Homo sapiens: one gene and its partner. The protein of the gene in region 1 purifies or fractionates together with the protein of each later gene. This does not show direct contact. Each region holds a gene or a part of one and is shown on either strand. Other genes may lie near its edges.

What was found.
Region 2: the proteins of DDX46 (region 1) and SRSF11 fractionate together in Homo sapiens (co-fractionation; 2 studies listed by BioGRID). This does not show direct contact.

Annotation. Positions count from the first base shown.
Region 1 is NC_000005.10:134,758,504-134,771,447, forward strand, and holds the start of DDX46 (probable ATP-dependent RNA helicase DDX46), read left to right. Parts: upstream 1-275; 5' UTR 276-435; coding exon 436-452; intron 453-5,400; coding exon 5,401-5,589; intron 5,590-8,413; coding exon 8,414-8,557; intron 8,558-12,399; coding exon 12,400-12,496; intron 12,497-12,944. UniProt on the Homo sapiens protein: Component of the 17S U2 SnRNP complex of the spliceosome, a large ribonucleoprotein complex that removes introns from transcribed pre-mRNAs.
Region 2 is NC_000001.11:70,234,543-70,247,486, forward strand, and holds part of SRSF11 (serine/arginine-rich splicing factor 11), read left to right. Parts: intron 1-153; coding exon 154-246; intron 247-958; coding exon 959-1,008; intron 1,009-2,882; coding exon 2,883-3,010; intron 3,011-4,896; coding exon 4,897-4,978; intron 4,979-10,141; coding exon 10,142-10,273; intron 10,274-12,275; coding exon 12,276-12,365; intron 12,366-12,574; coding exon of another isoform or gene 12,575-12,590; exon of another isoform or gene 12,591-12,607; intron 12,608-12,944. UniProt on the Homo sapiens protein: May function in pre-mRNA splicing.

The DNA of each region.
Region 1 (12,944 bases):
TATTTAGCGCAAATTAAGGCAGACATCAGCCTGCCCAGGACGCCTCTTTGGCTCTGGCGCGAAACACCCTCACGGGCCGGCGAGGCTGACGCGCTGCGCTCCATCGCACTAATCAGCCGGGCGTGGTGCGGGCGCCGGGAAGACTGGGCGGGGCGAAGGCATCACCTTTCGATGGGGCCGGCGCTGTGCGTCCTCCAGTCGAGGTGGGGCGCTGTGGAAGAGCGGCAGCTTCCGGTCGGCTTTTCTCTTCCTTCGGCTGCCGGCGCCAGCACGTCCTGTTTTCGTTGGCCGCGCTGGGATGGCCGCCACAGCTGTAGGTGCTGCTAGTGTTTAGCGCTGGTCTTTGCCGGGCGTTGAGGGCAGCTCAGCCTCCTTGTTTGTCCGGTTCGCCTGTGCGTGGTACTCAAGGGCACCAGTATTCCCGCGGTCGGCAGCATGGGTCGGGAGTCACGGTGAGGCAGAGCGCCGAGCGGGCTAGCGGGCGAGCGGCTTCTTGGGGTCGTGAGAAGAGGCGGGAGTTGAGGTGGCCGCCGGGCCAGGCCTGGCGCGGCCCCACGTGCGGTCAGCGCTGCCCCGCGAGCATTGGAAGGGCTGGGGGACCTCGGCTGAGGGAATGGTTGTGTTTGGGCCAGCGACGGCTTCCCCTGCACTACCATCAGAGGGTTCGAGCCCCTGGAGCGGGAACAACCCTCCAGGACGTTAGTGATTGGGCACCACATCCCGCCACTTCAAGGGAGCCTGCCCTGATTACTTCAGTCAGAAGTGATCCCAGTTGGATTGCTTATTGCTTCGCGTTTCCAACATTTCCTCGACTCCTGTCATTCTGTATTTTAGTTCTTTGTGCGCGTATGATCTTTTCCCAAGTTACTTGAAAGGAGCGTGTGGGCAGACATTTTTACCGCATCGACAGCACTATACACGACTAGGCTTTTACTGGGCTACAATAAATACTTGTTGCGTGGGCATTTACTTCGCAAATAGATTTCGTATTTAAGCAGGTAACTTTGTTACCTGCTTTTCTGTCCTTTTGAAGTTGTGGACTATGAGCTCTTATTAGAACTCATTAGATCTCATCACAACTTTAGATTGTTGATAGATTGTTAGGAACCTTGAGATTTTTATGTTAAAAATGACTATTTGCTATGTATTTAGCAATGACTGAAAGATATTTTATGTCTAGGAACAATGAAGGCTTTTGTTGTTAGTGCTAACAGTTCTTTGTTGAGGTACAATTAACAATCAGGGAAATGGACAAAACGTAAGGGTAAAGCTTGATGAAATTTAGCAAATATATAAACCGTGTAATCATCACCTGGATGAAGATAAAAAATATTTCTTTAACTACAGAAAATTCCTGTGACGGTGTTTTAAATCTCCGGAAGGCTGTCCAGACCAGAAATCTGAAAGTGATATTTATTTGACTCATTCTTCTCTCTCACTACCCACAGCCTGTTAGATTCTACATCCTTTGCCCATTCTGGTTGTCCCTGACTTAATTGAGGCCCTAATTATTTATTGTCCAGACTACTACATCTGTTTTAAATTGATTCTCTGAATTGATTGTCTTCCTCTGTTGCTCTCCTAATTGTTAGATCCCTTACACTACAGCCAGAGTGACACTTCTGAAGTAGAGATAAGATGATGGCATGCCCCTGACTTAGTCTCCATTGGTTTCTACTGCTTCCAAGATGAAATTTAAACTCTATGACAGCCTTCAAGGCCCTTCACAAGAAGGTCCATTCTAGCCCGTCAGCCTTCTCCTTTACCTCTCTGGTGTGCATGGCCTGTGCTCTAGGTTTGTTCAGGGAATCATGAAAGGCTTAGAGGTGGGAAGGCGCAAGGTGTTAGAGAAATAGCTAAAAAGCCCAATTTTTCTGCATATGTAGGTTTCATGAAGGGATTTTATCTTTTTTGAGAAGTAGTAGGAGGTAGGTCCTGAATAGGACTTGGGCCCAGAAAGCGGGTGGATTGTAGATTTTGAAGATCAGAATTTGTTTGTGAACCTTTGAAGATTTTGAGTAAAAAGTGTGTAATAGAATCAGAATTCTCCTTAGCAGCAATGAGTAAGATTTAATGGAAAAGTAATAGAAACAGGAAGACTACAGTCTTTAAGAATCTCCTAGGTAGATATGTCTGATATAGAATAGTGACGGTTGGAACTCTGTGGAGGTGATATAATGTGAAGGGAATTACAGAGGTGAAATTGGTATTACTTGGTTGTTTTTTTGTTTTTGTTTTTGTTTTTGAGACAGAGTCTCGCTCTTTCGCCAGGCTGGAGTGCAGTGGTGGGATCTCGGCTCACTGCAAGCTCCGCCTCCAGGGTTCACGCCATTCTCCTGCCTCAGCCTCCCGAGTAGCTGGAACTACAGGCGCCTGCCACCGCGTCAGGCTAATTTTTGTATTTTTTAGTAGAGACGGGGTTTCACCGTGTTAGCCAGGGTGGTCTCGATCTCCTGACCTTGTGATCCACCCGCCTCGGCCTCCCAAAGTTCTGGGATTACAGGCGTGAGCCACCGCACCCGGCCTGTTTTTTTGTTTTTGAGACAGGGACTTGCTCTGTCTCCCAGGCTGGAGTGCATTGAAACAATCTTGGCTCACTGCAACCTATGCTTCCCAGGTTCAAGAGATCCTCCCACCTCAGCCTCCCGAATAGCTGGGACTGCAAGCGTGTGCCACCACGCTTTGCTAATTTTTGTATTTTTTGTAGAGACAGGGTTTCACCATGTTGCCCAGGCTGGTCTCAACTCCTGAGGTCAAGCTCTCTGCCCACCTTGGCCTGCCAAAATGCTGGGATTACAGGCATGAGCCGCTGTGCCCAGCCAATTGGTGTTTTATTTATTGTATCGAATGAGAGCAAGAGAAAAATATTGATGATGACTAATGTTTTGAGCCTAGTGACCGGAAGTTGGTACGATTAATCGTTTGGGGAGGGAAGGGTAACAAGTTTGGGTTTCTACAGATTGAACTTGAGGTGCTTGAGAGATAATCAGGTGCATTCATCTCCTAGTGATCTTATTTAGGTTTATAGCTTTAAATAGCCTTTGTACACTAATAGCTGTCCAGTTTATATTTCTAGAGAAACCTCTTCCTTGAACTACAGGCTAATATTTCAACTATATACTATATATCTCCACTTGGATACCTAATATTCTGATCCACCTTCTCCCTGGATTTCTCCCTCAGCCTTCCCATCTTGGTAAATGGCAACTGAGTGATTTCTCTCTTGCTGTCACACTTGACATTTAGTTCATCATTAAATCCCATCGGTGCTAGCTTCAAGATATCCAGATTTTGATATTTCTCAAAATCTTTCCACCTTCCATTTTGATCTATGCCACCACTATCTCATGCCTGGATGATTGCTATAGTGCTGGTCTTTGCTAATCCTGCCTATTCTTTCTCCTTTTGTCCTTGCCTCCCTTTGTTTGGTTTGTTCTCTCAGCAACCAGAATAATACTTTAAAAACATTAGGCCAGGTGCAGTGGCTCACACCTGTAATCCCAGCATTTTGGGATTACATTAAGTGGAAGGATTGCTTGAGCCCAGGAGTTTGAGACCATCCTGAGCAACATAGCAAGACTCCATCTCTACAAAAATGAAAAATAAAAAGAAATAAATAGGTGGGCATAGTGGCACACGCTTTTATGCTTTTGGTCCCAGCTACTTGGGAGGCTGAGGTGGGAAGATGCTTGAGGCCGGGAGGTTAAGACAATCCTGAGCAACATAGTGAGACACCATCTCTACCCAAAAAAAAAAAAAAAAAAAATTGGTGGGCGCGGTGGTGTGTGCCTTTGGTCTCAGCTACTCTGGAGATTGAGGTGGAAGGATTGCTGGGGCCCAGTAGGTTGAGGTTACAGTGAGTAGCAATTGAGCTGCTGCATTCCAGCCTGGGTGACAGAGTGAGACCTTGTCTCAAAAAAGAAATTTAAAAAAATGATAAAAAGGCTGCATGCGGTGGCTCATGCCTGTAATCCATCCCAGCACTTTGGGAGGCTGAGGCAGGTAGATCACCTGAGGTCAGGAGTTCCAGACCAGCCTGACCAATGTGGTGAAACTGCCTCATCTACTAAAGATACGAAACTGGCTGGGCGTGGTAGTATAGGCCTGTAATCCCAGCTGCTTGGGAGGCTGAGGTAGGAGGATTGCTTGAACCTGGGAGGCAGAGGTTGCAGTGAGCTGAGATGGTGCTATTGCATTCCAGCCTGGGCAACAAGAGTGCGACTCTGTCTCAAAAAAAATAAATAAAATAAAATAAAAATAATTAGCTGAGTGGCCGGGCGCAGTGGCCCAAGCCTGTAATCCCAGCACTTTGGGAGGCTGAGGCAGGTGGATCACGAGGTCAGGAGATCGAGACCATCCTGGCTAACATGGTGAAACCCCATCTCTTCTAAAAATGCAAAAAAAATTTAGCCTGGCGTAATGGCGGACGCCTATAGTCCTAGCTACTCGGGAGGCTGAGGCAGGAGAATGGTGTGAACCCGGGAGGTGGAGCTTGCAGTGAGCTGAGATTGTGCCACTGCACTCCAGCCTAGGCAACAGAGCCAGACTCTTTCTCAAAAAAAAAAAATAATAATAATAATTAGCTAAGTGTGGTGACGCATGCCTGAAGTTCCGGCTTCTTGGGAGGCTGAAGTGGGAGGATTGCTTGAGCCTCAGAGAGTTGAAGTTGCAGTGAACTGTGAGCACATCACTGCACTCTATCCTGGATAATAGAGTGAGGCCTGTTTCTAAAAATAAAAATAAAAACATTAATGAGGTTGTGTCACTCCTCTGCTTAAAGTCTTCCAGTAGATTTTCATCTTGGTGTAAAAGACAGAGTCCTTATATAATGGCCAGTAAGGCCTTCCAGGTTTGGCTTCCCTGCTGTTTTTCTGACCTCGTCTTATGGCACGCTGTGTCACTCTTTCAACACTAGCCACAACTGGCATCCTTGCTGTTCCTTAAACTCACCAGTCAAGCTTCCTCTTTAGGGACTTTGCACTTGTGCCTTTTGCGTGGAAAATTCCCTGTATATCTACATGGCTCCTTTATTTCCTCCAAGCCTCTGTAACAAATGTCATATTTATATTGTATATAAACATACTATATACAGTGTTTGTTTCTTCACTTGTCTGCCGTCTTTTCCTTTACCGGAGTGTAAGCTGCCTGGAGCTCAAAGGCAGGAGCTTGGTCTGTTTTGTTCACTGTCCTTGCCTCTCTTTCAAGACAGATTTTCCACCTCTACATGTGTCTGTGCTGAAGCAGAAGGGTTCATTTTTTCCCTCCTAATTTTAGAAAAATTCATAAAAAGTTCTTTGAGTGTTAAATTTGTCTGCTGAAATTATTTTTAGAAAAAATGTAATAAAATGTAATAGAAGCTAATGGTGTTTGCTGAACTTAATCTTTGACTTATTGTTCTAGCCACTATCGAAAACGATCGGCATCCCGGGGTCGCTCTGGAAGTCGGTCTAGAAGTCGCTCACCCTCAGACAAAAGAAGTAAACGTGGAGATGACAGACGGTCTAGAAGTAGAGATAGAGATAGGAGGAGAGAGAGGTCTCGTAGCAGGGATAAAAGAAGATCTCGGTCAAGGGACAGGAAGCGTCTGAGGTAAGACATTAATTAATTTCCAAAAGACGAGTGATAAATTGGGCCTTCTCGGCTATAGCAGGCTTCTTGAAAAGTATGTTTTCAACTGGAGTTTGGTGGCCCAATTGCAGGCCCTTTTCTTTATCCCCTACTTGTTTGATTAGACCCAGAAGGATGTGCCTACAAAGACTCTATCAAACAGTGTTTTTTTTTTTTTTTAATCTTTTTTGAGACAGAGCCTCACTCTGTTGCTCAGACTGGAGTGCAGTGGTATCATCTCTGCTCACTGCAACCTCCACCTCCTGGGTTCAAGCGATTCTCATGCCTAAGCCTGCCAAGTAGCTGGGATTTCAGATGTGCACCACCACACCTGTCTAATTTTTGTGTCTTTAAAAGAGACGGTGTTTTGCCATGTTGGCCAGGCTGCTCTCGATCTCCTGGCCTCATGTGATCCTCCCACCTTGGCCTCCCAAAGTGCTGGGATTACATGTGTGAGCCACCGTGTCCGACCATCAAACAGTGTTTTTAGTTTGGAAACTTTAGGCTGTATTTCCTGTAACCCAAAGACATCCCTTGAAGCCCTCTGAGGGACATACAAAATGAAGTAAAAAGTAAAGTAATAAGTTATATTCAAGAGGGTTCTATTCCAATTCTGCTCCAGGAGAGCTGACCAAGGTGTTAATTTTCTTTCCTTTTTTTTTTGCCACCCTTGTTGAAATTTGTAAAATTTCCTTCCTCTCTCCCTCCTTCCCTCCCTCCCTTCCTCCATCTCTCTCTTCCTTCCTCCCTATCTCCTTCCCTTCCACTCTCTCTCCCTTCCTCCCTCACTCTTTCTCTCTTTCTCTTTCTTTCTTCATTTTGCTAAACAGTGTGTTTAGAGCAGCCTCTAAAGCAGGCAGAAAAAGGAAACAAAGCAGACCCTCTCCAAGCCTCTTAAACTATTTTAATGAGCTGTCATAGATTTAAACTAAAGAGCGCCTTAATCTTTTTTTTTTTTTTAATTTATTTTTTTTTTGAGACAGAGTCTCACTCTGTCACCCAGGCTGGAGTGCAGTGGCACGATCTAGGCTCACTGGAACCTCTGCCTCCCGGGTTCAAGTGATTCTCATGCCTCAGCCTCTTGAGTAACTGGGATTACAGGCATGCTCCACAAAGCCTGGATAATTTTTGTATTTTTAATAGTGACAAAGTTGGCCAGGTATGGTGGCTCATGCCTGTAATCCCAGCACTTTGGGAGGCCAAGGTGGGTGAATCACGAGGTCAGGAGTTTGAGACCAGCCTGGCCAACATGGTGAAACCCCGTCTCTACTAAAAAAAAAAAAAAAAAAAAAATTAGCCAGGTGTGGTGGTGCATGCCTGTAAACCCAGCTGCTCGGGAAGCTGAGGCAGGAGACTTGCTTGAACCTGGGAGGTGGAGGTTGTAGTGAGCCGACATGGTGCCACTGTACTCCAGCCTGGGCGACAGATCAGGACTCCATCTCAAAACAGAAAAAAAGAAAATAATCTTCTGTGCACACCACACCCAGCCAATTAAAAAAAGCTTTTCATAGAGATGGGGGTCTTAACTGTGTTGCTAGTGGCCTCCCAAAGGGTTGGGACTACAGGTATGAGATACCATACCTTGCCCAGTTTCTCATTAAAATAGGAAAGGAAGACAAGATTGTGTTGTGAGTGGATCATAGAAAGAATTTAACTTTATCCTTTTCAGACATTGGAGTACATTGTTGTTACGTAGGATTCAGGGAAAATATTCACCCGTGACAATGTGGATAGCATTTTCACATTTTGTGGTCCTAGGAACAATTTCACACAATTAATTCAAGTACTTAAGTGAAAATGGTTATTTAACATTTGGTCTTTGACTTTTGGGTGTGAAAGTAGAATCACAAGATTTTAGAGCAAGAGGGATTTTAAAGATGTCTAGTGAAGTCTCCATATTTTATAGATGATGAAACTGAGACCCAGAAAGTTGGAGATCTGACCTTCATCATGTCATTAGTTACCAGGAGTAGCAGGATAGAAATTCTTGCCTCTTCATCTTCAGATTAGTGATCTTTTAGTAGACCCATTATGCCCATCCTTATACTTAGGTTTAGGCTATCTGAAACTAGATATTCTATCTTAGACCATCGATTTTCAATCGATGTTAATTACAGACTTATTATGGTTTTTTCACAAACATCTTTATGAAATTAGTATTCTCTGGCCTGGCATGGTGGCTCACGCCTGTAATCCCAGCACTTTGGGAGGCTGAGGCAGGCAGATCACCTGCGGTTGGGAGTTCGAGACCAGCCTGACCAACATGGAGAAACCCCATCTGTAAAAATACAAAATTGGCTGGGCATGGTGGTGCATGCCTGTAATCCCAGCTACTCAGGAGGCTGAGGCAAGAGAATCGCTTTAACCCAGGAGATGGAGGTTGTGGTGAGCTGAGATTGCGCCATTGCACTCCAGCCTGGGCAACAAGAGCAAAACTCTGTCTCCAAAAAAAAAAAAAAAATTAGCCGGGCATGGTGATGCACATCTGTAATCCCAGCTGCTGGGGAGGCTGAGGCAGGAGAATCACTTGAACCCAGAAGGCAGAGGTTGCAGTGAGCTGCAATTGTGCCACTGCACTCCAGCCTGGGTGACAGGTGTGAGACTTTGTCTTTAAAAAAATGAAAGAAATAAATTAGTATTCTCATTTTTTTCGTTGAGCACTTATAAGACTTGGCTTTACTTCATTGAGACCTCCACCTTTAATAATGGTAGTGATTAAGATTCTTTCAATGTGGGACAGAATCCCCTGATCTGAAATAGTAGCTCCATTTGGTCATAGAATAAATGAAAAGTGTCCCCCTTTCAGACGTTCCAGAAGTAGAGAGAGAGACAGAAGCCGAGAGCGAAGAAGATCTCGAAGTAGAGACAGGAGACGCTCAAGGAGTAGAAGCCGGGGCCGGCGATCCCGATCCTCCAGTCCTGGAAATAAAAGCAAGAAAACTGAGAATAGGTAATGTTATCATTGGGCTGCATCTATAGTGCAGACTGGGGACTGCTTCCCTTCTCTGCGCCTTTTTTTTTTTTCCCTGTAAGTTTGTATTTATAGAGAATTAACTGCATTTGGCTCCTACCATGAACTGTTGGCAGTGTTTTATTTTAATTGGCTATAATGTTTATAATTCAACTGGAAAATAATAGATTCTGTCAGTTTTAACATTCAATACATTGTATTCTTACTTAATACATAACTGTCAATCAGAAATGTATTTTATAGACATCTTTGTAGAAACTCTGTCATTTTCTTTTCAGGCAGGGTCTCACTCTGTTGCCCAGGCTGGAGTGAAGTGGCAAGAACATAGCTCACTAACCTTAAACTTGTAGACTCAAGCAATCCTCTCACCTAGGCCTCCAAAAGTCCTGGGATTATATGAAGAGGCAGACATAATATCCCAGCTAATTTTTATGTTTTTAGTGGAGATGGGGTTTTGGCATGTTTGCCAGGCTGGTCTCGAACTCCTGACCTCAAGTGATCTGCCCACCTCGGCTTCCCAAAGTGCTGGGATTACAGGCCTGAGCCACCGCGCCCAGCCAAGACTTGTCTTAAAAGTTAAGAAATTAGGCCAGGCGCGGTGGCTGACGCCTGTAATCCTTGCACTTTGGGAGGCCAAGGTGGGCGGATCACCTGAGGTTGGGAGTTGGCGACCAGCCTGACCATTGTGGATAAACCCCGTCTCTACTAAAAATACAAAATTAGCTGGGCGTGGTGGCGTATGCCTGTAATCCCAGCTACTCTGGAGGCTGAGGCCGGAGAATCGCTTGAACCCAGGAGGCAGAGGTTGCGGTGAGGTGAGATCATGCCGTTGCACTCCAGCCTGGGCAACAAGAGTGAAACTCCTTCTCAAAAAAAAAAAACAAAAAAAAGTTAACAGAAATTAAGACAATGTGCAATTTGTTTAGCAGTGGACAGACAGATTAGTGAACCATGTAAAGAGCCCAGAAAGGCATCCATACACATGGTAATTTGATAGATGACAGAGGTGATGATGTAATAAGTGAAGATTTTTTTTTTTTTTTTAACAGCCAAAGTCTCGTTCTGTTGCCCTGGCTGGAATGCAGTGGTGCAATCTCGGCTCACTGCAACCTTCGCCTCCCGGGTTCAAGTAATTCTCTTGCCTCAGCCTCCCGAGTAGCTGGGACTGCAGGTGTGTGCCAACATGCCCAGCTAATTTTTTGTATTTTTTAGTAGAGATGGGGTTTCACCGTGTTAGCCAGAATGGTCTCGATCTCCTGATCTCGTGATCCACCCGCCTCGGCCTCCCAAAGTGCTGGGATTAAAGGCGTGAGCCACCGTGCCTGGCCAGAAAAATTTTTAAATTGCTCTAGGGATATCTAGTATCCTTTTATGAAATAAGACTGCCTACCTTATTCTGTGTACAAAAAGCAATTCCAAGCAAAGACCAAATTAGATGGCAAAATTCTAAACCTTTTAGAAGTTTGTGCCAGAGAGTATCTTCTTCTTCACCTCTAGGTATCTTACATCAAATCTGGAAGGATTTCTAAACTACTTTAAAAAGCACCAATTATAAAGGAGAAAAAAGGTTGACTAATTTGATTACATTAAAATTAAGAAATTTTATTCATTATGAGATGCCGTAAGTTGGGGTGCGTAAACAAGTTGGGTTTATTCCAAGAATGGCAGGTTATTTTAACATTAAAAAATCATTAGAAGTCTGGGTGAAGTGGCTCACGCCTGTAATCCTAGCACTTTGGGAGGCCGAGGTGGATGGATCACGAGGTCAGGAGTTTGAGACCAGTCTGACCAACATGGTGAAACCTCGTCTTTACTAAAAGTAAAAAATTAGTCAGGTGTGGTGGCACACACCTGTGATCCCAGCTACTCGGGAGGCTGAGGCAGGAGAATCACTTGAAGCCGGGAGGTGGAGGTTGCAGTGAGCCGAGATTGCGCCACTGCACTCCAGCCTGGCCGACAGAGAGAGACTCCGTCTCAAAAAAATCCCCTAAAATCATTAGAACATTAGAACATTCGAAATGCATGTCCCTTGGGATTTTAAACGTTATTACATATATAAATTATCTTGCAGAATATTAATATATTGGTCTGTTTCTTCATTTATCACATTTTAACTATCCTACCTATAAACAAACTATATTGTTTGTATGTAGTATGTTCAGTTTTTCTTGGGTTGAATTTCCAAATATTTAGTAATGCTTCCCATTAGTGTCATGGGATTAATTTTTTTCGTTATATTTTCAAGGTTTTTTTTTTTTTTTTTTTTTTGAGGCAGAATCTTGCTCTGTCGTCAGGCTGGAATGTAGTTGTGCAATATCAGCTCATTGCAACCTCTGACTCCCTGGTTCAGGCTATTCTCCTGCCTCAGCCTCCTGAATAGCTGAGATTACAGGCACGTGCCACCATACCCAGCTGATTTTTGTATTTTTTAGTAGAGACGGGGTTTGTTTTTTTTGTTTGTTTTTTTTTTTTTTTTGAGGTGAAGTTTTGCTCTTGTCTCCCAGGCTGGTGGGCAATGGTGCAATCTCGGCTCACTGCAACCTCCGCCTCCCGAGTTCAAGTGATTCTCCTGCCTCGGCCTCCCACCCCTGAGTAGCTGGGATTACAGGCGCCTGCCACCAAGCCCGGCTAATTTTTGTACTTTTAGTAGAGACAGGGTTTCACCATGTTGGTCAGGCTGGTCTAGAACTCCTAACCTCATGTGATCCACCTGCCTCGGCCTCACAGAGTGCTGGGATTACAGGCGTGAGCCACCGCGCCCGGCCGAGTTGGGGTTTCACCATATTGGCCAGGATGGTCTCGATCTCCTGACCTCGTGATCTGCCTGCCTTGGCCTCTCAAAGTGCTGAGATTAGAGGCATGAGCCACCATGCCCAGCCTCCAGGTGTTTGTTAATGGAATATGAAAACACAGTTGACTCTTAGAAGTTTATTTCTTACCTAAATATTGGAATACAAGTCTAATAAGTGTACTTATGTATTTTTTGTTTTAATTTAATAGAGACGAGGTCTCACTGTATTATCCTGGCTGGTCTCGAACTCCTGGGCTCAAGTGATCTTCCTGCCTTGGCCTCCCAAAATACTGAGCTTACAGGCATGAGCCACTATGCCTGACCAAATTTTTTTTTTTTTTTTTTTTTTTTAAAAAGAGACAGGGTCTCACTTTGTCACCCAAGCTTGAGTGCAGTGATGGGATCATAGCTGACTGCAGCCTCGAACTACTGGGCTCAAGTGATCGTCTTGTTTCTGCCTCCTCAGTAGGTAGGACTGCAGGTGCACACCACCATACCCAGCTAATTCTTAGTATATTTTGGAAAGATTGGATCTTGTTATGTTCCCCTGGCTGATCTCTTTAACTCCTGTTTTCAATTGATCCTCCTGCCTTGGCTTCCCAAAGTGCTGGGTATATAAGTGTGAGGCACCTTACCCCACCTGTAAAAGTATTTTAAGGCCGGGCGAGGTGGCTCATGCCTATAATCCCAGCACATTGAGAGGCTGAGGTGGGCAGATCACCTGAGGTTAGAAGTTCAGGACCAGCCTGGCCAACATGGTGAAAACCTGTCTCTACTAAAAATACAAAAATTATATGAGTGTGGTGGCTGGCACCTGTAATCTCAGCTATTCGGGAGTCTGTGACAGGAGAATCGCTTGAACCCGGGAGGTGGAGGTTGCAGTGAGCTGAGATCGCACCATTTCACTCCACTCCAGTCTGGGCGACAGAGTGAGACACTGTCTCAAAAAAAAAAAAAAAAGTATTTAAAAATGAATGTTTCTAAGTACAAATGAATGACATTTCTCTTGTCTCTTTTATTTTTTTGGTAGATCTAGGTCCAAAGAGAAAACTGATGGTGGGGAAAGTTCTAAAGAGAAGAAAAAAGACAAAGATGACAAGGAGGATGAAAAAGAAAAAGATGCTGGCGTATGTTTATTAACTTAAAAATAATTTTCTTTCTTTCTTTTTGTCTTTCTTTCTTTCTTTTCTTTCTTTCCCTCTTTCTTTCTTTCTTTCTCTTTCTTTCTTTCTTTTCTGTCTGTCTTTCTTTCTGTCTTTCTTTCTGTCTGTCTCTGTTGCCCAGGCTGGAGTGCAGTGGCACATTCTCGGCTCCTGAGTTCAAGCAATTCTCCTGCCTCAGCCTCCCAAGTAGTTGGGACTATAGGCATGCGCCACCATGCCCAGCTAATTTTTGTATTTTTAGTAGAGATGGGGTTTCACTGTGTTGGCCAGGCTGGTCTTGAACTCCTGACCTTGTGATCCCCCTGCCTCGGACCCCCAAAGTGCTGAGATTACAGGTGTGAGCCACCGTGCCTGGCCATCAAACTTGTTTCTATGGGCCAGGCACGGTGGCTCACGCCTGTAATCCCAGCAC
Region 2 (12,944 bases), on another chromosome or scaffold:
TTATATGGTTTGTGTACAACTGAGGAGTTGTACGGAGACCATGTAGCCTGAAAACTCAAGTTGTTATCTGACCCTTTACATTAAAAAAGTATTAACCCCTGGTATAAGGAACTGAAATGAAGTTTTAAATAAATAAAATTTGCCATTTCACAGATTGGCGCTGTTCCACTGGCTGCTTTGGGGGCTCCTACTCTTGATCCTGCCCTTGCTGCACTTGGGCTTCCTGGAGCAAACTTGAACTCTCAGGTATACCTTAGTAACTTCAAATTTTTCACCCATTTTTACAGAAGATCTGTTTCATTAACTGTTGGTTTGCATTTCAAGAGCAGAAGCTAATGGCTATGTTGTAGTAATTTTTTTTCTTGTTTAAACTTGTCAGAGCTTTAAACAGTCACTGAATGACTAACTCCTTTATCCATTAATGGATTTCTTTTATATAGTTCAAAATAGAAAATAGATTCACAAGAAGCCAGTACATTATCAGTGTGTCATAGAGTCAGAGTAAATAGTCATGAAAAGATAAGAATGTGGTTTATAATTTTTCTATCATGGAAATTTTTCTTTTATTTTAATTTAGCTAACCTTTTTTTCTGAAGTTCTTTGTAGAGGTCTTTTGCATTATATTGGCTAAGGTGTTTTGAGTTTTACATGTTTCTTTATGTCAAAAAGTCTTAAAGGAGACATAATTCTATAATACCTAGACTGTTCAGCCTCATAATCTTTAGATAACTTGCTAAAGCTGCTCTATCCAATACTGTAGCTACTGATGTCACCGGTTTTTGTTTTGTTTTGTTTTGTTTTTTGTTTTTGTTTTTTCTTTTTTAATGTGGCTACTAAAAAATTTATGTTTCATGGCATGTAGTCTGCATGGATTTCTGTTGTTCAGTTTTCTGCCTAGAAAATATCGGTCATTTATTGTTTTATGTATTCTCATTATTCTTATGTTTTATTTTTACAGTCTCTTGCTGCAGATCAGTTGCTGAAGCTTATGAGTACTGTTGATCCCAAGTAAGCGTTTTTTCTTTGTTTTCATTGGTGATGTGGTATCTGAATGTCTACAGAATTAGAGTTTTTTTGATAGCTTATAAGAAAGTTATCAAGTTATCTTTTCTCAAGACAAGCAATATGTATTGTTACCTAGAAACAAGGAGAGAAATACAGAAGTAAGTAAGGTCCTCTAAACTATTTTGTTTCAGTGTCATTTGAGTCTTGAATAGTAATTGTAAATGACTTATACCTGGATGATAGCAAAAGAGCTAATAAGGGACAACTTCGTTTGAAGATCAGAGGCTGAGTCCTGAGGATAGTAGGAGTTAGAGGCAAAGCTGAGGGAATCACTATCCCAGAGCAAAGTAGTATTACATATTATATAATTAATAGCCAACATTTTATTTTAGGTGCTTTTGATAAGTGCTCTTCATGCTGTCACAGAAATTGTTTCCGACTTGATGATGTGACAGATTCATCAGTTTTTTTCACTGGTTATTTGTTGGCATAATAAATTTGAACTTTATACCTTTTCCCCTTAACTTGGTGAAAGTCACTATCAGTAAGTGAGAGAGCATGAAAAGGACAGAATCGTTGGACTTCAGTAGTTAGTGGACTTTTTTCTTAGAAATTATCTAAAAATAAAACCAAGCATGTACCCATCACCCAGCTTATAAAATAAAATAATACCAATACAGTTGAAGCTTCCTATATACCCATTATTTATTACATTTCCTGTTCTGCCCACAAATAACTACTAAATTTGTTGTCTATAATTTTTTTTTCTTTCTTCTTTCTTTTTCTTTTTTTTTTTTTTTTTGAGACGAGTCTCACTCTGTTGCCCAACCTGGAGTGCAGTGGCGCAAACTCAGCTCACTGCAACCTCCGCCTCCCAGATTCAAGCAATTCTTTTGCCTTAGCCTCCCAAGTAGCTGGGACTATGGGCACAAGCCACCACATCCGGCTAATTTTTTGTACTTTTAGTAGAGACGGGGTTTCACCGTGTTAGCCAGGATGGCCTCAATCTCCTGACCTCATGATCCACCCGCCAAGGCTTCCCAAAGTGCTGGGCTTACAGGCATGAGCCACCATGCCCGGCCTACAATTTTTTTTTTACATGTGTAAACCTGTAAGGGGCATCTTTAGCCTTTCCACTCAAGACTTCATGTGTAATTTTGGTAGGCCTTTGGCCTCTGCCTCAGTTCCTCCCCACCTACAAAGTAAAAGGTAATGCTCTTCCCCAAAAAATTACTATGTCATAAATTTTTTTTTTTTTTTTTTTTTTTTTTTTTGAGACGAAATCTCACTCTGTCGCCCAGGCTGGAGTGCAGTGGCGCGATGTCTGCCTCCCGGGTTCAAGCAATTCTGCTGTCTCAGCCTCCCGAATAGCTGGGACTACAGGCGCCTGCCACCATGCCTGGCTAGTTTTTTGTATTTTGAGTAGAGATGGGATTTCACCGTGTTAGCCAGTATGATCTCGATCTCCTGACCTCGTGATCCACCTGCCTTGGCCTCCCAAGGGGCTGGGATTACAGGCGTGAGCCACCACACCGGCCCAAAAATTTTTAATTTATATGAATAAAAGTTCTTAGCATCAGCATATTTTCTTGTACTGGCATTTCTAAAAATGTGTTTGTTTATGGAAAGTTAATGGATGTTCAGCAAAATAGGTATTTTTCTAATTCCAGATGACTCTTAGTCATTAAAACAAATACTTGTAAATATTCAAAACAGTGCTATGCTATATGTTGTTTACCAAAGTTATCATGGAGTCCTCCCCTCCCTTTTTTTGAAGGAATATTTTGCTAAAATAATGTTATATACTTAAGTATTTATTTGAAATGCTCGTGTGCATTTTAAAATATTTCAGATCCCATTTCTTGGTTCTGTTTCAGGTTGAATCATGTAGCTGCTGGTCTCGTTTCACCAAGTCTGAAATCGGATACCTCTAGTAAAGAAATAGAGGAAGCTATGAAAAGAGTACGAGAAGCACAGTCCCTAATTTCTGCTGCTATAGAACCAGGTAAACAATGTTTATGCAATTTTGTTGTGTGATTCTTAGCAAAAATGATTTTGACATAAATGTGGAATTGTGTTGAGTGACACCCTAGTCGTTTAAAATGTTGTAAACTCTGATAAAAGATTGTATAGTGGAGTGCCACTCAGACGTATTTGGAGACAATTCTGGTGGTCACAGGAGTACCAACTGCATCTAGAGGGCAAAGGACCAACATGTTGCTAGATATCCTGCAACAAACAGCACAGCCTTCCACAGCAGTGGTTAATCTAGTCCAAAATGTCAGTAGGATTATCTAATACTTGAAACGATATTTTGTTTTTCTTATTATTTATGTTTTTCTAAGTTGGGATAGCCTAATTTTAATTTTTTTCATTGATCAAGAGAACCTAGTGAAAATGCTTCTGTTTAAAATGATATTTCTTTAAAGAAAATTAGTTGTCTTCTTTGCAGATTGTCTTTTTGAGAGTAAATGAATAGATATCATATTATCTGCCCATATATATTTAGATCTATGGCCCTGGATTTTCTTTCTTATAAATATCTTGTTCATTAATAAATGGGAATGTTTTTTAATGTGCCTATTGTTAGGAAAATAATTTTAAAGTATAATAGTGGATAAACTGATACCAAATGCTTTATATGTATTATGTTATTTAACCAGGAAAATGTCAAATAATTAGCCACAGTTACATGGCAAGCAGTAGGAACTTTTAGATAGCACAGCCGGGTGTATGTAAAGTTTATGACACACCGTGTTCTAACTGCTGTTTATATTGAAAATATATGATTAAAGTGACTGAATGTAGTTTCTTTATGAACTGATGTTTTTACCAATATTTTTATGAATTTATTATAATGACATTCACAATAAATTGAACCCTATTAATGAAATGACTTAAATGTAAAAGAAACTCAATCTCACTTTGATGATAGTCAGTGAATGTAGAATACAATGACTTTATTTCTCTTGTTATGTCCCCAGTTAAGGAATTTCTTATGTGTAGTTCTAGATTTCCTTTCTATATTTACACAATTGAAAATTGGTAGGGAAGAGGAGTGATGAGCAGATAATAGGAAGCGAGCTAGCTTACTAAAATCTGATTCTGTCACAGAAGTGGACTAAAATCAGTGAGTGAATCATGACTTTCTGCATTTGGGGGCCAAATATTGAGTCTGTGAAGAATCAAGGAAAGGAAAGGGGACCCCTCATTTAGAACCTTGTCAAGAGTAAATCAGAGCCAGAGAATGAGAAATTTACCCTCTTTATAGACTGCTTTACAGAAAACACTTCACAGCCTCTTAAGTCTGGCAAGTAAAATAGGCAAAGGAACCTTTAGCTAGCTGAGAATTAGAAGTCTAATTTGGATCTACCAAAAGCTTGGATGATTTGCAATTTATAGTATTTCAGTAAGCTTCAAAATCGTGATTATAAAATGGTTACTTGTGACATTCAAGGGTTGTATGTAAAAGCTGAAAACTAAGGTGAAAAATTATTAGAATAACTTCTGAAAGGGAATAATCTTCCTATTTGATGTGTTTTTTTGTTTGCTTGTTTTTGTTTTTGAGGGGTCTCACTCTGTTGCCGAGGCTGGAGTGCAGTGGTGCAATCACAGCTCACTGCACCGTCCATCTCCAGGCTCAAGCAATCCTCCCAGCTCAGCCTCCCCAAGTACCTGGGACCACAGGCACACACCGCCATGCCCAGCTAATTTTTGTATTTTTTGTAGAGATGAGGCCTCACTATATTGCCCAGGCTGGTCTTGAACTCCTGGACTGAAGTGTTGCTCCCACTTCAGCCTCTCATAGTGCTGTGATTACAGGCATGAGCCACTGCGTCTGGCCCCTATTTAATAACTTCTAAATGCAGGTTCCTTTTCTTTTAAATATAGATAAGAAAGAAGAAAAAAGAAGGCATTCAAGATCAAGATCACGTTCTAGGAGGAGGAGGACTCCCTCATCTTCTAGACACAGGTTAGATTGCTTTTTAGTCAATTATACCTTAGACAAAGATAATTTATATATGTCACATCTTTTTTAATTTGCTGTTAATCTGTTATCCTCTGGTTAAAGTGTTTTAGTAACCTCTGCTGTTAGAATGTGTGAATGACTGTTCACACATGTAAAAAGTAAGAAAAGCGACAGACGAAATAGATGATTTATGCTTTAAAACCCCCAAAAATTCAGAGGTGGTAGGAAAGCATTGGAACTAGAGCAACAAAATGAAAAATAATTGATTCATTGAATTATACAAGTTTCCAAATACTGACTTGTATTTGTTATCTAGTGTCAAAAAGTGACATCTGGTAATATCACCTTAGATCAGATCAGTAAAATGCAAGTACTAGGAATCTGGCATGCTCACAACAATGGAGTCATTTTCCAAAATTTAATTTTCTCAGATTTTTATCATTGGCAACAGATTCATCTATTTTCCTTATATAATAGACTTCATTTATTTTTCAAAAAATTGTCTGCCAAATACCCAAGTCTAATTAATCATAGTTTCTAGATTCTCAAAGGTGATAATGAAAAAGCAGTTAGTTCAGCTCATAACTCAACACAGGTGTCTTCCTTAATACAGCCATTATACTTCATAAGCATCAGAAGTGATTTATGCATACTTTCCATTTCATCACACAGAATATTACTCAAGAGACTAGATTTAATTCTGCTACTATATTAATAGTACTGAAGGGGGATTTAATAAAATTAACTTTACTGCTTCATCAAAGACATCTTTATAAAAGTGGCATTATTTTTTTCTTTTACTGCAAGTGCATACAGAAATGCCAGTGAAGAAGATAGTGAGTGACTCCTAGGGCAGTTCAATAGCCCCTACCTTGATTTGTGTTGAAGAGTCAGTATTTTTACCCACTATGGCTTTTGTGACATTGGTGCAAACGTCAACACAGTGGAAAAGGCAATAATTTGTTATTACTTTGAAAATAATTTTGACCTTATGGACCCCATAAAAGGGTCTTAGAGCATCCACAGTTGTGCAAACGACAATATAAAAGCCATTGCTCTAGGTTATTCACCAACTATTTCAGCCATTCTTCGATTTTCTTAATTTCCAAACTCAATCCTAATTGGCCTAGTTGCATCCTAGTTCTTCTAGTCAGAACCCTTTAGGATTGACATTCAGAACTAGGATATTCCAGTTGTGGTTATTTACTTCAGCCAGTTTCAGCTTCACTTTACATACCCCTCCATCACTGGACTTTTTTTTTTTTTTTTTTTTTTGAGACGGAGTCTCACTCTTGTTGCCCAGCCTGGAGTGCAATGGCACGATCTTGGCTCACCACAACTTCCGCCTCCTGAGTTCAAGCAATTCTGCCTCAGCCTCCCGAATAGCTGGGATTACAGGTGTGTGCCACCATGCCTGGCTGATTTTGTATTTTTAGTAGAGACTGGGTTTTTCCATGTTGGTCAGGCTCATCTCAAACCCGCGACCTCAGGTGATCCACCCACCTTGGCCTCCCAAAGTGCTGGGATTACAGGTGTGAGCCACCATGCCCGGCCATTCACCACTTGACTCTTAAACCTTCACTCCTGGCTTCATCTCTTCTGGAACCTAGTTCTGTCAGTTGTCTGCCTTTTCTTAGTGTCCGTTACCCCTTAGTTTTTACCAAGGGTTAGATAAAACCATTTCTCCTATTTATTGTCAGGATTTTTGAAAGAGCAGTGTGACTTGAATCCTAGACTTTGTCACGTCTCTATTAAAAGCACTTATATCATAAAATATCTAAAAAGTCACATTTCTGTCTCAGAGATGATCTTTTCACTCTGTTTTTATCTTTTAATATCATTTTCTTATTTTAAGTCATTTCTTGAAGTATTACAGGGGTTATCCTGTATGCTATGTCTGTTTATTCCCTGTCACCCACCTTATCCCACTGTCTTATTCTTAGAGTTGTCTTTCAGAAACCCAAATACAGATCATGTCACAGATACTGAGAAGTTCCTTATTGCCTTGATAAGGTGATACATAAAACCTTAGAATGGCTTTCAGGGTTCTTTACTATTCCGTCTGGTTTATCTTTTTACACGTGTCATTTGCCACTCCAAAAGTTACAGGACTAATTGCCTCAACATACCATTTTCTTTATGTCTTCATGTTTCTGCTCATGATCCTTTCTGCCTAATGCTTTTCCACATCTTCCATTTCCGCTTTGAGGAACTCCTTTTTCTTTCTTCAAGATACAATGCTTGCAGTCTTAATCTTCCATGACAGTGCTCTCATAGTTTAGTTTAACCTCTGCAATAGGATATACCTCATGATTACTACAATTTATATGTGTTTCCTTTTACCAAACTCTTAGGAAAAAGGAGAGCCTGGGCCGGGTGGGGTGGCTCACGCCTGTAGTCCCAGCACTTGGGGAGGCCGAGGCGGAGGATCACAAGGTCAGGAGATTGAGACCAGCCTGGCCAACATAGTGAAACCCCGTCTCTCCTAAAAACACAAAAATCAGCTGGGTGTGGTGGCGCGCGCAGCTGTAATCCCAGCTACTCAGGAGGCTGAAGCAGGAGAATCGCTTGAACCCCGGAGGCGGGGATTGCAGTGAGCCAGGATGGCGCCACTGCACTCCAGCTTGGTGACAGCGAGACTCCGTCTTAAAAAAAAAAAAAAAAGGGAGAGCCTGTGTCTTTTTCTTTATATTAAATCTTACTGGGACTCTCTCATTTTAATATTAATTACTTTACTATGACCAGTGAAAAGTAGAAGTGAAATATGTCCCTGAATCCAGATACTTGTAATACATCGTAACAGAAATCATTGTTGTGGGTTGTGGTAACCCTCACCACACACACACACCCCCCACACCCCACACCCCCACCAGGCTCAAGCCATCCTCCCACCTCAGCCTCCTGAGCAGCTGGGACTACAGGCATGCACCACCACACCTGGCTAATTTTTGCACCTTTTTTTTTTATGTAGAGACAGGGTTTTGCCATGTTGCCCAGGCTGGTCTCGAACTCCTGAGCTCGAGCTGTTTGCCCACCTCGGCCTCCCAAAGTGCTGGGGTGACAGATACAAGCCACTGAGTCCAGCCCAGTTGTAGTATCAAGCATCACATAGTGTGTTAAATGACCATGACTTTCACAAGCTTTTTGACTTTATTAAAAATATGTTACACTAATCTCTTTTGCTGGTTAAAAGCTCATATGAACTAGTAAGTGTAGAAAAGTGACGGTAGTACATTCCCCTTTGAAAACAACTGTTTAATCTCTTAAGGTTATGATTCTGATATTTTATATGCCTATATTTCATTCAAAGTATATTATTGGTGCCTTTTATTTAAATCAGGCAGTGTAGTAATTGCTCAAGAATACAGTCATGAAAAGACTTACTTCCCATGTCTTTGTGGAGCCTATGGTAGGGTAGTTAAGTAGATAAAAACATCTTAGGATGTGGAGATGTTATTGCAAGGAATTGTTTAGTAAATAGTTTCAAATATGGCTGAAAATAAGAGATTAAAATTAAAGTTAATTGAGTTCAATAACTCAAATAGTTTATTGAGGCATTACTATGGGTTTTGAGGCAGTTGTTTTAGGGAGTTATGGCAACAGAAGCTATATTAGTACATCAGTAAGAGGAAAGAAGGACATCAATATTTAATGTACAGTCCCCTCCGTATATGCAGGGGATTGGTTACAAATCCATCTATACCAGAATCCATGCATACTCAAGTCCTCTGGAATCCACATATAGGAAAACTCAGTCCTGACTATACATGGGTTCCTCATCCTTCAAATACTGTTTTTAATCCACATTTGGTTGGTGGCAAAAAAAAAAAAAAAAAAAAAAAAAAAAAAAAAAAAACACAGTGTGTAGGTGGAACCATGCCGTTAAAGCTCATGTTATTCAAGGGTCACTTGTGTGTGCCTACACTAAGGCACCGAGCTAGACTCTATATACTGCATTTAATCTTTGTCATTATTTGGTGATAGAGGTGTTACTATCCTTGACTGCTGAAGTAACAAGGTCAGAGAGGTTAGATAATACTCTTAAGTTACCTGGCTTATAAATGAGAGTTTAACACAAGTCTTTAAGATGTCCATACTCTTTCTTGTACCTTGAAAAGAAAAGTAGGCAGAAAATTTAGACTATATTTGAAATGTTGCACAGAGAGAAGTTGAATGGTCACTAAAAGTTAAGTGATCAAGACTAAGCAAAGGATTGCAACTTATTTTTAATTTTTAAAATAGAAGAGAATGGGCCGGTTGTGGTGGTTAATGCCTATAATCCCAACTCTGGGAGGCCAAGGTGGGCTGGTGGCTTGAGCCCAGGAGTTCAAGACCATCCTGGGCAACATGGCAAAACCCCATCGCTTAAAAGATAGAGGAGAATGAGTTTTAATGCAGTAGGGAGGATGACAACATCTAAAGGTTAATTGTGCTTCTTAGTCCTGGAAGAGCCAGGTCAGGACACAATGGATGGGGGCTCGGTGCAGGGAGTAGAGAAACAGATATGTCAGGGAAAAATGAGAGTAAAAGAGGCAGTTTATACAAATTGTATATATCTGTAAAAGGTCTGCATTGCCTGGAGTTTCCTAAATTGTGGATTAAAGGAGTGGAATTTGTTTCAGAGAAAAATTCGAAATAGGAGATGGCAACACAATAAGTAGTTTCTCTTTATAAAATAGAAATAATAGTGGCATTTACTTTATGGACTTACGAGACCAATTTGTAGTTTATATATAGCGTGATATAAGTATTTGATTTATGATGAGGAAGGTTTAAGCTGCACTAATGAGGAATCAAATAAGAAATACATGCTAAAATGCTATATAATTGTATAAGATGATGCAAATAAGTCATACTTTTATTCTCCTTCATGATCTAGTAGTATTTTTAACCTTGGAGTTGTAAGTACAGTGGGCATAGAAGGACCTATCTGACAGGTTGAGCAAATCATTAAAAGGTGAGGAATTCCAAGTGTTAAAAGGTATTACTAATTTCTAAGGTGTTGAAGGTGTTTGTTCTATGGGCTAAATAATAGCAAATGGAAGGGAATTATCCCCCATTTAATTGTTTAGTCCATATGTCCGAATCTTTTGTCTGATACTAAGCACAAAATTTATAGTCTTTTTACATTTATACACATGTATTGGCTTCCTTTTACACTATTAGGCGGTCAAGAAGCAGATCGAGACGGCGGTCACATTCTAAGTCTAGGAGTCGGCGACGATCCAAAAGCCCAAGGCGGAGAAGATCTCATTCCAGAGAAAGAGGTAGAAGGTCAAGGAGCACATCAAAAACAAGGTATAGCATTGGGTGAGAAAGCAAATTTTAGGGTTCCCAGTACCCCTAGTACTGTGCTACTTAGTAACAAAAGAGGTGGTTGGGGTGCGGGGCAGAGAAATAGGGCTAGACAGGGGAAGAAACTGTCAATATTTGAGTTTGAGGAGGCTGACGTTTGCTTTCTGGTGCTTCCTTGTAAACTGAAACTTCAGCTTACAGCTGAGGGCCTAAGTAAAATTTCTTAGTAGTAGGAATTGTTAGCTGTCCTGCTACCTTCTTTCATAAGAAATACCGTAACGTTTTATTTCCATCTAAAAATATATTCAAAAACCAGTCTTTTCGTGTAGAACCAAACACTTTTAAATTAGTATGCCCCCAGTCATTTATAGTTGTGAGGCATACAATTTCACAGCACTTAATTTTTTTAGCAACTGCTTTTTATCTCTTGCTAAAATATTTATCTTAATTTTCTAGAAGCAACTCTATATTTGGCATTATTTTGTTCATTTATATATTTAGTTAAATCATGTCATTAAAGTAAGTACAGCTGGGGACACAACATAACTTACTCTTGGGAAGCATAAAACTCAACTGATGAGAACAGAAGAGTGGGGGTAGCTTTACTATCATTGTTAAACCTGTAATAATGGGGCTTTTAGTCCTTATGTGCTGCAGAGTGAATCAAACAAGGTAGATTAATAGAACAGTTATACAAAGGAATTAAGCATTTCTTTAAGGACTTTCTGATTACTAGGAGAAGAGTGATGGATTTAATTACAGGGGAGGAACTGTTAAATGATGATTGCTACTTGCTGATATTGGAAGAGGTTTGAGAATGACTCGAGTATTAAATTCTGAAAGATTTGACTAGACTCAACGGGAGGCATGCTTTCAGGTGGAGAATGGTGTTTCTTGAAATAACAATATTTTGATGTAGTTGGACTAGAAAATGAGGTCAGAAAAATATAATGAGACCGATCGTGGAAGGCTTTGTTGTTCACACTATGCACTTGATCCAGGAGGCAACTGGAATGAGTTGAAAATGGTGAACAGGGAATTAATATTTTCAGGTTTGTACTTTAAAAGATTTCTGACAGAGTACAGAATCAGTTTATGGAAGGCATGACTGGGACCTACTAGGGGACTGTTCTAGTAATCTAGGAGTTAGATGATAAAGATTCAAATGAAGAGGGAACCAATGATAAAGATTGAATGAAGAGGGAACCGAGGATGACCAGAGAAGGGAAAAAAATGAAATTGAGAATGCAGAATGGAAAGATTAGCTTAGAACAGTAAGAGAGGGATACTTTGATTCTTAAAATTAGAGAATAGTTAAAGAGGGGGGTTGTTATGAGACTTCTCATTCAACAAATATATATCGTTTATCTACTCTTTGCTTAGAGTCTTGGGGAGAATGATGATCTTGGGGAAAAAATATTGTGAGGAGTAAAAATTTATAGGAATCTGTAAAAAAAAAAAATTGAGTTACGGCTGTAGTCAAAATCTGTTGATATTTTCTAATAAGCCCTGAATAGTTCATAATAGCCGCAGAAAAAGAAGCTTGCTTGATCCATGATAGAGGTTGACATGGGATGTGTGTCTTGGAAGAATATTCATGATATTGATGGATTTTGGTAGTGCTCTATGGGTTTTGGCCTGATAGGAGAGGTGGGTTGGGAAAGTGGTAATCAGCTGAGAGAAAAAGGAGTCTTGAGGAGCCTAGAGATAGTTAACTTATTGGTGTTTACCAAGTATATTTCAAGCCAACATCCTAGTTATTTTCTCACCCATAGTCTACTTTAGTCTACTTGGGAGAAAACCTAGGATAATAGGATTTTAAAAGAAGTTATTGTACTTCAAATATGCCACATAAAGTATTATTTTTAAAACAGTTTCTGTCAGAACAACATTTATGCTTTTAAGGATGGGATTAGATCTGATTATATTTTTGTGTTTGTAGTGCTATATAAATTGGCATCAGCTGAGTCTTCTAATGCATTCATAAATTGTGTTCATTTGTTAGAGACAAAAAGAAAGAAGACAAAGAAAAGAAACGTTCTAAAACACCACCAAAAAGTTACAGCACAGCCAGACGTTCTAGAAGTGCAAGCAGGTAAGGTGGCATTGTGAATTCTTGGCAATTATTTTTTTAACTTTGCTTCTAACAGTATCAGTACGCTGTCAGTATGAAGTCTTTTCCAGAACATAAGTATTTCAGTGTTGAAAAAAGTTACATTTTGCTGTTATTTAAAGTTTTTAAAAGGCAATTTGTGAAGAATAATGTAGTTTATTTTTCTTTTTACTTAATATTTTATGGTCTAGAGTATATTTGAAGTAACATGGAATTCAAGAGAGGTGAGTTTTTCTCTTTATAGTTTAAGTTTTAATGGCTAAACCATACTGAATTGTTCCATTAAGTAAGCTTATTATAGTAAGCTATATTTATCATCTGCATGTTAGTACTTGAGAATTTTTCTATCCCTTTTAATGACTGTTGAATTAATGGGAAGCAATGCAGGTTCTGGTTTGTGTCATTCTTAGACTAATTCTATCTTTAAGCTGTCAGTGAAAATTGAAATGTTGCAGACCTTACTGCACAAAAAGCACATTTTCATACTTAATTTGGGATTTATATGATAGTAAGGGCTGGACTTCATTCCATTTTTCAGATCTCATTCACATGTTTTGCTGC